Linked DNA regions of Homo sapiens: region 2 is linked to region 1. The links come from fine-mapping of genetic effects on gene expression. A gene starts in region 1. The other region holds a variant in brackets. All regions are shown on one strand. Distances are from middle to middle.

Evidence for each region. PIP is the estimated chance that this variant, and not a neighbour inherited with it, causes the effect.
Region 2: its variant is fine-mapped to the expression of BLOC1S2 in follicular helper T cells (Schmiedel 2018, PIP 0.93).

The regions. Positions count from the first base shown.
Region 1 is chr10:100,284,085-100,289,084 of GRCh38, reverse strand. It overlaps BLOC1S2 (biogenesis of lysosomal organelles complex 1 subunit 2), which reads left to right and starts at 2,405. Exons shown (of 5, transcript NM_173809.5): 1 at 2,405-2,480; 2 at 2,872-2,988. The coding sequence starts at 2,426. It overlaps PKD2L1 (polycystin 2 like 1, transient receptor potential cation channel), which reads left to right. Exons shown (of 16, transcript NM_016112.3): 15 at 29-113; 16 at 607-936. The coding sequence ends at 689. RefSeq lists a silencer at 2,289-2,488 and enhancers at 2,779-3,078, 2,664-3,171.
Region 2 is chr10:100,195,873-100,201,408 of GRCh38, reverse strand. It overlaps CHUK (component of inhibitor of nuclear factor kappa B kinase complex), which reads left to right. Exons shown (of 21, transcript NM_001278.5): 15 at 629-738; 16 at 1,389-1,438. Among named protein-coding and RNA genes, the nearest start is that of ERLIN1, 13 kb to the right of the region's middle. The variant G/A (reference allele first, on the strand shown) is at 2,396.

The DNA.
Region 1 (5,000 bases):
ATGATTTGTCCCTTTCTTCTTCCAACAGAAGGAACAAGCTATTTGGAAGCACCCGCAGCCAGCCCCAGCTGTGACCCCAGACCCCTGGGGAGTCCAGGGTGGGCAGGAGAGTGGTGAGGAAGGGGGCCTAAAGCATCAGACAGCAGGCTTCCCTCCCTCTGCCTCCGCACAGGCCCCCTCGCCACATCCCCTGCACTTCTAGGACAACAGGTCCCATCATGGCTGCTGCTGAGCCCCACCCTGCATCTGGCCTTTTGAGCCAATGTTTCTGTGTGTGGTGGGCATCATGCTTAGGCTTGTGAATCAGTGTTTCTGTGTGTTGCCACATAGCTCTGTGAAATAACGTCTTCCACTGGGCCTTTTACTCCCTGTGTACTTAGCTCTGTGTGTTAATTAAAAAAAAAAAAGTTAACAAACAGGATAAAGAGAGGGAGGGTAATGGCTCTTCCTAAGCACCTGGATAGCCATGGTCTGTGAAAAAGGTAGAAACCAAGAGAGTAGGCGGTATCTAGATGTCTTCCTACTTCCCAGTGAATCCTATTCTTATCCTTTGTGCATCCCAAGATTTGTTGCTAGCACCCATGGGTTTCTCGTTTTCCCCCACAGAGGTTCCCTATAAAAGAGAAGAGGAAGCCTTAGAGGAGAGGAGACTCTCCCGTGGTGAGATTCCAACGTTGCAGAGGAGTTAAGTGTGAGGCACTCCCGGAGCAAAGTCTATGAAGGATCTTCTGCAAGAGGCTGCCTCCTGGTCCACTGAACCTGGAAACTGAGTGGGCTTTAACCAGGAGATAAAAATGGAGCCTGAAGGGAATCAGGCAAGGAAATGAACTCAGGATTCAGAGATCTTTGAATTAATATGTGGTGGGTTCTGACATTATTCTTCCATAAGACCATGTGGGTTTCCATGGTGGCTATCAATAAAACTCCTTAGGAAAACTTGGACTTTGCATTTGCTTCTGGTATTATAGAGGGAAGAAAGGCTGAAATTGTGGGTCATCCATGTGCCTGGGCTGGAATAGGTTCATGCTCTCTAGGAGGTATAGAGTAGGTGCAGTGATGTGAAGGAGCTGGGCTATAAGAACTTCTAGGCCTAGCACAGTGACTCACGCTTGTAATCCCAGCACTTTGGGAGGCTATGTTGGGTGGATCACTTGAGGCCAGAAGTTCCAGACAAGCCTGGGCAAAATGCTGAAATCCTGTCTTTAATAAAAATACAAACAAATTAGCCAGGTGTGGTGGCGCGTGCCTGTTATCCCAGCTACTTGGGAGGCTGAGGCATGAGAATCGTTTGAACTCGGGAGGTGGAGGTTGCAGTGAGCTGAGCCGAGATCACGTTACTGTACTCCAGCCTGGGTGACAGAGCGAGACTCTGTTTCAAAAAAAAGAACTTCTGGCTCGCAGGAATGGCTTGAAATAGTGGCTACTATGGTTGCACCATAGGAAAAGTGGGGACAGGTGACAAGTGAGACTCAGTCCTCAGGGTGGAGACAGTCAGGGTAGGAGGGCTGGGGATAAGGGGTAGCTGGCGTGTGTGTGTATGTACTGGCATCGGGGTGGGGTGAGAGGGTGCAGAGGGAGGATAACCAGGGATAAGAAAAGAAACTACCAAGATTTTGGGTGTCCAGGAGCCTGCCTGAGGCCTGCTGAATATCTCCTATCCCTTCTTCTGTGGCCTTTATCCCTCCTCATTTTGCACCTTCAATTGCTCCCCAGTCACTTCTTCTCATCCATCTCTTTCACTCACTCCTGTTCTCCCATCCCATTAAGTACTCTGTACACCTAGGAGGCTTGTGAAACAGCTTAAATGCAATTAAGATAACCAGAGTGTATCCTCAGCCCTAAAAAAGTTACAGTCTAAGCTTTCTTCAAGGAAGGCTGTATCAACTGAAGAGAAGTAGATGCCTGCCTGCAGTTTAAGAAATAGGGGCCAGTGAGTTGGTGTTAACTCAGGACATTGGGAGGGACAGTATTTAGGACCAGGGATCAATGCCTGAAGGTTTCCCAAAGTGTGGACGAGACAACCTGTAAAACTTTGGATTCCCTGAGCAATCTTTTGATGACTAACTCCAGTGCGGAGTGTCAGGAGAGCGGGCAATCCGTCTTCAGTGGTTTTGGTCAGCAGGCCACAAACAGGGTTGACTATTCCCAGACGGGTCGTGAGTGGTACAAGATGAGTGATCCCTCCAGGGTGTGACTGTAGGGATGAGCTCGCCCTCAGTCCCAGACGTCGCGACTGTTGGCAGTGGATCAATTCACAACAGCCTGGCGTAGCTTCAATTTCGGCTCCGGAATCGCCCTTTGCTGTGTCATAGACCTGAGGCTGGACTGGACCGCTAGGCGCAGGACTGCAGGGCCGGCCGGGTGGGCGGGGCACACCCAGTGCGCATGCGCAGCACCCCGGCCCGGAAACAGCGCGGGGTCCGCTATGGCGGCGGCAGCCGAGGGCGTACTGGCGACCCGGAGTGATGAGCCCGCCCGAGGTACCCGGAATGGATGGGGAGGAAGCGTCCGGTGGGGGGCCTGGGGCTCCGTCTCGGGTGGGCGAGGTTGAGTGTGTGGTGGCTCACCTGGCAGGAACGGGCTGGTGAGAGGAGTGCACTTGTCGCTGCGCGCGAGTGTTTGTCCTGTCAGGGTGACTGGGATGGTGCCAGGATGAGCGGGGGTGCCGGGTATGGGCGAGGGGCGGTGCGAGGGAGGCGAGTTGATGTGTCAGATGGGCAGGGACGCAGTGAAGGACTTGAAATTATGGCAGATGGAGAATGGAGCCGACTTGATGGAATGAAGGCAAGTGGAGGGATGTCGGAACAGGCTGCTTTGGCTGGATTAGCACCGGGTGTAGGCGGGACACTTAGTCATTCTCCCTTGGCCCAGACGATGCCGCCGTGGAGACAGCTGAGGAAGCAAAGGAGCCTGCTGAAGCTGACATCACTGAGCTCTGCCGGGACATGTTCTCCAAAATGGCCACTTACCTGACTGGGGAACTGACGGGTGAGGCGGGGTCTGGGTTGATTCGGGTGCGGTTTGGCCCAGGAGGCCTGGGAGATGGTTAGCAGCATCAGTCTGCAGCTCCCTTCCTACCCTGCATGCCCTGAGACAGGCCTGTTGGAAGTTGGGGGAGGCCATGAATGGGAGAGAAAGAAAATACAACTCTGCAGGCCTCTGTAACATAGACTAATGAGAAAACAATAACAAAAAAGAGTTCATATCCAGCAACAGTAATCAAGAAGTGCTTCCTTGGGGAAAGTGTATTTTGAGCAGGGTTGTGAAGGGAATTATTGGTGGAAAAGGGGGAGATGATACAACTAGCGAATGAGGTGGTATGTGCAAGCAGTGTGTTTGGCTAAAGCAGAAGATGTGTTTACCGGGATAAAGAGAAATGAAATTGAGGAACGGGGAGTGACCTGCAGATTTAGGGACCTATTAGTTTGGTCTGAGGATTTGATAACCCATCCTTTGGGACATGACTAGTGTTTGATCGTTTCCAAGTGGACACATGACCTATGTGTGGAGGAGGATCAGAAAGTGAAGTATGGGCAGGGCGCGGTGGCTCATGCCTTTAATCCCAGAGGCCGAGGCTGGTGGATCACTTGAGGTCAGGAGTTTGAGACCAGCCTGGGCAAAATGGCGAAATCCTGTCTCCACTAAAAATACAAAAATTAGCCGGCCGTGGTGGCGGGCGCCTGTAATCCCAGCTACTGGGGAGACTGGGGCAGGAGAATCGCTTGAACCCAGGAGGTGGAGGTTGCAGGTTGCAGTGGACTGAGATCACACCACTTGCACTCCAGCCTGGGCGACAGAGTGTGACTCCATCTCAAAAAAAATGAGAAAGAAAAAAGAAAAAGAAAGAAAGTGAAGTCTGGTCCAGTACAGCATCTCAAAAACATTTATTAAATTGTTTCACTTCCCCAGGAAATTACTGTAAGCTAAATTTGTGAATCAGAATCTATGAGAAAAGGCTTGATACAGAATAGTAGGGGTTGTGAATCTGTAATTTTTTTTTTTCTTTTTCTGTTTTTAAGAGACAGGGTCTCACTATGTTGCCTGGGCTGGTCTTGAACTCCTGAGCTCAAGTGATCCTCTTTCCATCTATTTTGGTTGATGGCACCACCCAGGCTTAAAACCCCAGATACATCTTAGTCTGCTTCCATCCCTCAATATCTACTTGAACAAGTCCTATAAATTCCACTTCTGTAATGTTCTTGCACCCATGCTCTCCTTTCCATTCCTTTTACCACCACTCTGCCTGAGATCTTCATTACTTTTCTTTTATTATTATTATTATTTAAAAAAATATGGCCAGGCACGGTGGCTCATGCCTGTAATCCCAGCACTTCGGGAGGCCTAGGCAGGTGGATCACCTGAGGTCAGGAGTTCCAGACCAGCCTGCTCAACATGGCAAAACCCTGCTTCTACTAAAAATACAAAAATTAGCCAGGTGTGGTGGCACACGCCTATAATCCCAGCTACTCAGGAGGCTGACACGGGAGAATCGCTTGACCTGAGAGGTGGAGGTTATAGTGAGCTGTGATCGTGCCATTGCACTCCAGCCTGGGTGATGGAGGGAGACTCTGTCCTAAATAAATAAATAATAGAGATGAGGTCTGCTCCGTTGCCCAAGCTGGCCTCAAGTGATCCTAACACCTCAGCTTCCCAAAATGCTGGGATTACAGGTGTGAGCCACTGCACCCAGCTGTGACTCTGTAAGTTATCAGCCTGATTATTTGTTTGTTTATTTTTGAGCAAGAGAAACCAAGTAACAAAATGTAGGTGTTTGGCTTCTCTTTAACAATTCCAAAGATTTGGCGCTACTAGCCCCTGCATTCTTTCAAGGCTATAATTGACTAGAGCTGAGCAGCTGCCTCTTAAAAGGACTAGTGCTATCTAATTTGTCCTTACCACTTTCTGTTTTCTCCCTTTACTGGGAACTAGTGTCAAGTGCCATTGATCACTGTTCTCTACTGTTATTTTTATTAGTAGCAGTACAGAAATGGTTTTCTATA
Region 2 (5,536 bases), 88 kb after region 1:
ATAATTATCAGTAGTAGTCCCTTTCACTCTCAAAATTATGCCGGTTTGGACAATAAATTATATGGTGTCCCTAGGTATAGCTCATTCTCTAGGTGGCAGATTTTTTCCCCTTATCCTGTACATTTGTCCACGGTCCTAAGTTATTACACTCCTTAATGTCAGTACTTACCCTGAGGATGTGGGTGGGGATACCCATGGTGTCCTGGGGTGGGAAATCCAAGTTCTTTATCTTTTTGTGTCCCTATTCAAGGTAGTGGGGACCAGGGGGCAGTCAAAATCATAGAGCCAAGATACAAGTAATACCAATGGTTTTGGTGGTCCTTTTTCTTTCTTGTTAGTTGATACCTGTTGTAGCTTTTTGCTTCTCCGGAGGTAAAAGCAAATACTAGTAGTTTACTGTTGTCAGGAGAGAAAAGAGAGAAGACTAAGACTAAGTATGTTCTTATGTGAAAGATTAAGTGTCAGAATCTGAAGAATAGAAAGGCTTTAACAAAATCAGTGTTTCGTATTATATTATTTAGTTCTCTAATGAAGCAGCAAGTCATTCTGTATCCTTAAGATCTGAATTTTGTTTCCTATGATGTAGTGGTAAGCCTTTCATTTCCTTTGTATTTTCATCATATTTTAGGTTGGTGTCATTGGATACCTGGAGGATCAGATTATGTCTTTGCATGCTGAAATCATGGAGCTACAGAAGAGCCCCTATGGAAGACGTCAGGGAGACTTGATGGAATCTCTGTAAGGATGCACTTGTGTTGTTGGTCTTGACATCTGTAATATTTTGTATTCTTTCTGCTTACATCTGGCAAATTAAACCTCTAGTGGTTCTTTTCTATAGTTTTCCTTTCCCCAAATATATTGGCATTATATTTAAAATGGAAGCTTTTTCTCAGTCACAGGAAACTTCGGAAATAATTCTTTGGGTTGGCCTTTTTTGGTTTTTAATAAAAGCATTTATTTCATAGGAGTGTTAAGAATTTTCCAAGTATAACTAAGTTACAAACTATTTCCCTACTCATTATACCTCTGGTCCAAGGTATTGACTCTTAAATGCCCTAAAACTTGAAATTTTTTCTGAATTAAAGTTCTGGATTAAAAACTTCAGATATTTTCTCGAATTATAGGTCATAATTTTTGTCTTTTTAAGTGTCTGTGGTGCAGAGATGTCCCCATGATAGATCAGAATAGATATGAACTATATTAAACTTTGCATTTTAAGAACTTGTATAGTTCTTATTACTCAATACAATGCTCTGTGAAATACTTGTTGGCAATATGAACTTGCTTTAAAATGGGTTCATTATTCAAATAAAATATTGTTTCAAGTTGTAGATTATTGAAGTCATTAAATTACCTTCACTTATCAGAGCGTGTTTTCTCTTTTATAGGGAACAGCGTGCCATTGATCTATATAAGCAGTTAAAACACAGACCTTCAGGTAAGACACTTCTACCACAGTGCTTGAAGGCATTTTAGGTAACTATCACTAGCCTAACAAATGTGGGGGATCTAATATTTTTAAGTTAAAAATTTTCTTAAAGCTGCAGAATAAATTCCAGTTTTGGTATTGCCATTGAGACATGGTATAATAAGCTTTAAGATTGTGAGAATTTAGGAGATGATAAAGAGAAAGTAACAGAGAACGTGAGGTAGAAAAATTTTAGAAGGGGACGTGAAAAGAAAGAATGGAAGACAGAAAAAAGGAACTCAGAGAGGAAAAAGCAGCAAGAAAATGTTTAGAAAGATGGAAAAAATAAGTGTTGCTTAAGATTAGAGAGGTTGGGCCAGTTGTGGTGGCTCATGCCTGTAATCCCAGCACTTTGGGAGGCCAAGGTGGGTGGATCACCTGAGGTCAGGAGTTCAAAACCAGCTTGGCCAACATGGTGAAACCCCATCTCTACTAAAAATAGAAAAGTTAGCTGGGCATGTTGGCATGTGCCTGTAATCCCAGCTACTTGGGAGGATGAGGCAGGAGAATCGCTTGAACCTGGGAAGAGGAGGTTGCAGTGAGCCAAGATCACACCACTGCACTCCAGCCTGGGTGACAGAGCGAGATTCTGTCTCAAAACAAAACAAAAAAATATTATAGAGGTTGGAAAGAATTTGAGGCAGTGGGTTCAGGTATGGAATGGTTAGAGGGAAGGCCTGTGCTGTTCTAGGCCAAAGCAGATTGCTTTGAAAATAATGCCTTCATCTGCACTGGTCACTGATGACTTGTTTTGTTGGCAAAATAATTCCAGTTGAACATCTGCTAAATACTGAGCAAGGTCTGCTGGAAAGAGTACTGGATGGGGAATCAGAGGCTTGAATTCTAGATTGAGTAATTTACTGACCGTTACCTCAGGCAAATCTGCGTTTCCCATTTCCTTCTTCTGCAAAATGGGGTTGAAACCTA[G/A]CTTTCCTACTCAGTGAGTATATTGTGACAGTGTATTTAAGAGGATGTTTGTGAAAATGCTTTGAAAACTATAAACTATTATGTACTTGCAAGATATTATCATTTAGTTAAAAATTTGTTTTGAAGGGTAACAGAAGAAATAAAGTCTGTGCCCTAATGTGCATTATACTTAAATGCATGTTAAAAAAAGATATACTTTTACACTTTAAAATTTGTAGACACATAGCAACACATGCAAATTAATATACATGTGAAATTGTATTTCATATACTATTTTCACATTTAAAAAATAACATTATCTCCTCTTATACTGCTTTTATTTTACTGAAATGTATTCAGTTTAGTCTGACCAGCAGTTCTCAAAATGTGGCATATGGACCTGTGAGAATCCTTGAAACTTTGTCAGAGAGTCTGTGAGGTTAGAACCATTTTCATAATAAGATGTTATTTGCATTTTTCACCATGTTGACATTTTCATTGATGGTGCAACATAAAATGGCTTTCACCTTAGTATGAATCAAGGCACTAGCGCCAAACTATGCTAGTAGCCGTTATATTTTTTACCACCATGCAGTCACAGTTTTTAAAAAATGACAGTTTCACTTACAAATGTCCTTGATAAAGCAGTAAAAATATTATTTTATTTAAATCTCAACGCTTGAGTATGGGTTTTTAATATTTTGTGTGATGAAATGGGAAGTACTCATAAAGTGTTTCTTCTATACAGTGAAGTATGATGGTTGTCTTAAGGAAAACCACTTCAGTAATTGTTTACGTTGCTAGTTGTCTGGCCTCTTTCAGGGAAGATACCATTTTTACTTGGAAGAGCAACTGTCAGGCAAACTATGATTATTCAGATTTGCATACGTGAGATAATTTCTAAGAAATTAAATGAAAATAAAAAGTATAGCACACTTATTACTTTAAGGGAAAAAAGCAGTATTTGTTGTCAATGATAAAATTCCATGTTTCAAGCAAAAAGAATTTTAGAAAACTTGTATTTACCAGCTGGAATGACAGCTTCTCAGTACTTAAAAACTTTTCTGATGAGATTAGTGGTGATATCAGAAAGGTTTGCAAAAATGTAAAACAGTGCAAGTGTTCTCACTCAAATTTTTTTGTTTTAGAAAATATCGTTTTTTGGTTTTTGTTTTTAGAGGTGGGCTCTTGCTATGTTGACCAGGCTGGCCTTGGACTCCCTGGGTTCAAGTGATCCTTCCACTTCAGGCTTCCAAGTATCTCAAGTAGCAGTAACCAGTGAAAGGAGGTGGCTCTCGTAGATATGAGTATACTGTGTAGACACATGTATGTATAGCACTTAGCATGTCTGAGGAAATGCAGTATGACTGGAGTGTAGAGTTTCAGGAGAGAGAAAACCTAAATATAGGAGAGAGAGAAAACGTAAATATAGGTTTTTTTGTTTGTTTTTAATAAAAACATGTTAATGGGCAATAGGTTTGTTATTTTTAAATGAATTAAGACACGAGTATTTTTAAATTTCTGTTTAATTCCTGAAAAACCCTTTGGGGTTCTCAAGAATTTTCTAGTGTAAAGGGGTCCTGAGACCAAAAAGTTTGAGAACTGCTTATCTAGACTATTCTCAGAAGCTTGGCTGCTCAGGAAAGAAGAGAGGTGGGTGAGTAGCTAAAAGTTGATGTAGAGTCAAGGGAGGTCACTTCTCAGAAGGAAGACTTAAACATGAGGTGCCACATGATGATGTTTTGGTTAACAACAAATTGTGTATACTATGGTAGTCCCATAAGATTATACTACTGTATTTTTACTATGTATTTTCTATGTTTACATGCACAAATACTTACCATTGTGTTACAGTTGCCTACAGTATTCAGTACAGTCACTTGCTGAACAGGTATGTAGCCTATTGTCAAAAGGCTATACCATACAGCTTAAGTGTATAGCAGGCTGTACCATCAGGGTTTGTATAAGTATTCACACAGTGACGAAAGTGCCCAATGATGCACTTCTCAGAACATATGCTCAGGGCCAAAAAAGCCTGTGGAGAGGGAGGTCCCTGAACAAGTTGAGAGATTGGCTCCAAAGAACAGTAGGAGGGATTAGCCTTGATACTATTGATATTGGAAAGAGAATGAGTGTGGATACAGATACTTTTTTGGGAGTAGAGGTTGGAAGATCAGGGTCTTACTGCCTTATGGCCTCTTATCCTGCAGTGGTAAGTGAGGTTAACTGAAATGGAAGAGGTGACGACCTCATAGATTTGAATAGAGTGCTAAAGACTTCTAAAAGCCACTGTGTGCAGTGGAAGATGTTGTTGACCCAAAACATTCATTAAGAATCCAGGCCAGGTGGCTCATACCTGTGATACTAGCGCTTTGGGAGGCTGAGACAGGAGGATCGTTTGAGGCCAACAGTTTGAGACCAGTCTGGGCAACATAGTGAGACCCTGTCTCTACAAAAAAATAAATCAATAAAATTTTTAAAAAGCTGGGTGTGGTAGTGTATGCCTGTAGTCCCAGCTACTCAGGAGGCTGAAGTAGCAGGATCGCTTGAGGCCCAGGAGGTCGAGGCTGCAGTGAGCCAAGATTACACTACTGCACTTCAGCCTGGGTTGACAGAGCAAGACTTTCTTAAAAAAAAAAAAAAAAAAAACCCAGAGCAGAAATGAAAAACCTGTGAATTAGCAGTGACAAATAGTGAACAGTAATATTAATTTTTTGTTGATAATTTAGTAGCTTGGATACAGGAACTGATAGAGCAGATGGTTGGATTAATCCAAGGTTAGGATTTTGCTGATGGAATAAGAGGATAAAAAGGTTGAAGATGTTAACAAATAGTGATTTAAGTGATAGAAGTTGTAGCTAGAGTAAAATATTAAAATCTAAGATTTCAAATAGAGCAAGTCCAATTCTTTTTCTTTAATCAATATTTCTGGGCCAGGCGTCGTGGCACATGCCTGTAATCCCAGCCACTTTGGAGGCTGAGGCAGGAGAATTGCTTGAACCAGGGAGGCAGAGGTTGCAGTGAACCAAGACTGTGCCACTGCACTCTAGCCTGGGTGACAGAGCTAGACTCCATTTCAAAAAAAAAATTCTGACTCCCAGTTTTCTGGCTAATGAATCAGATACCACAGATACACAGTGATAGCATTTGTTTAGGTTATAT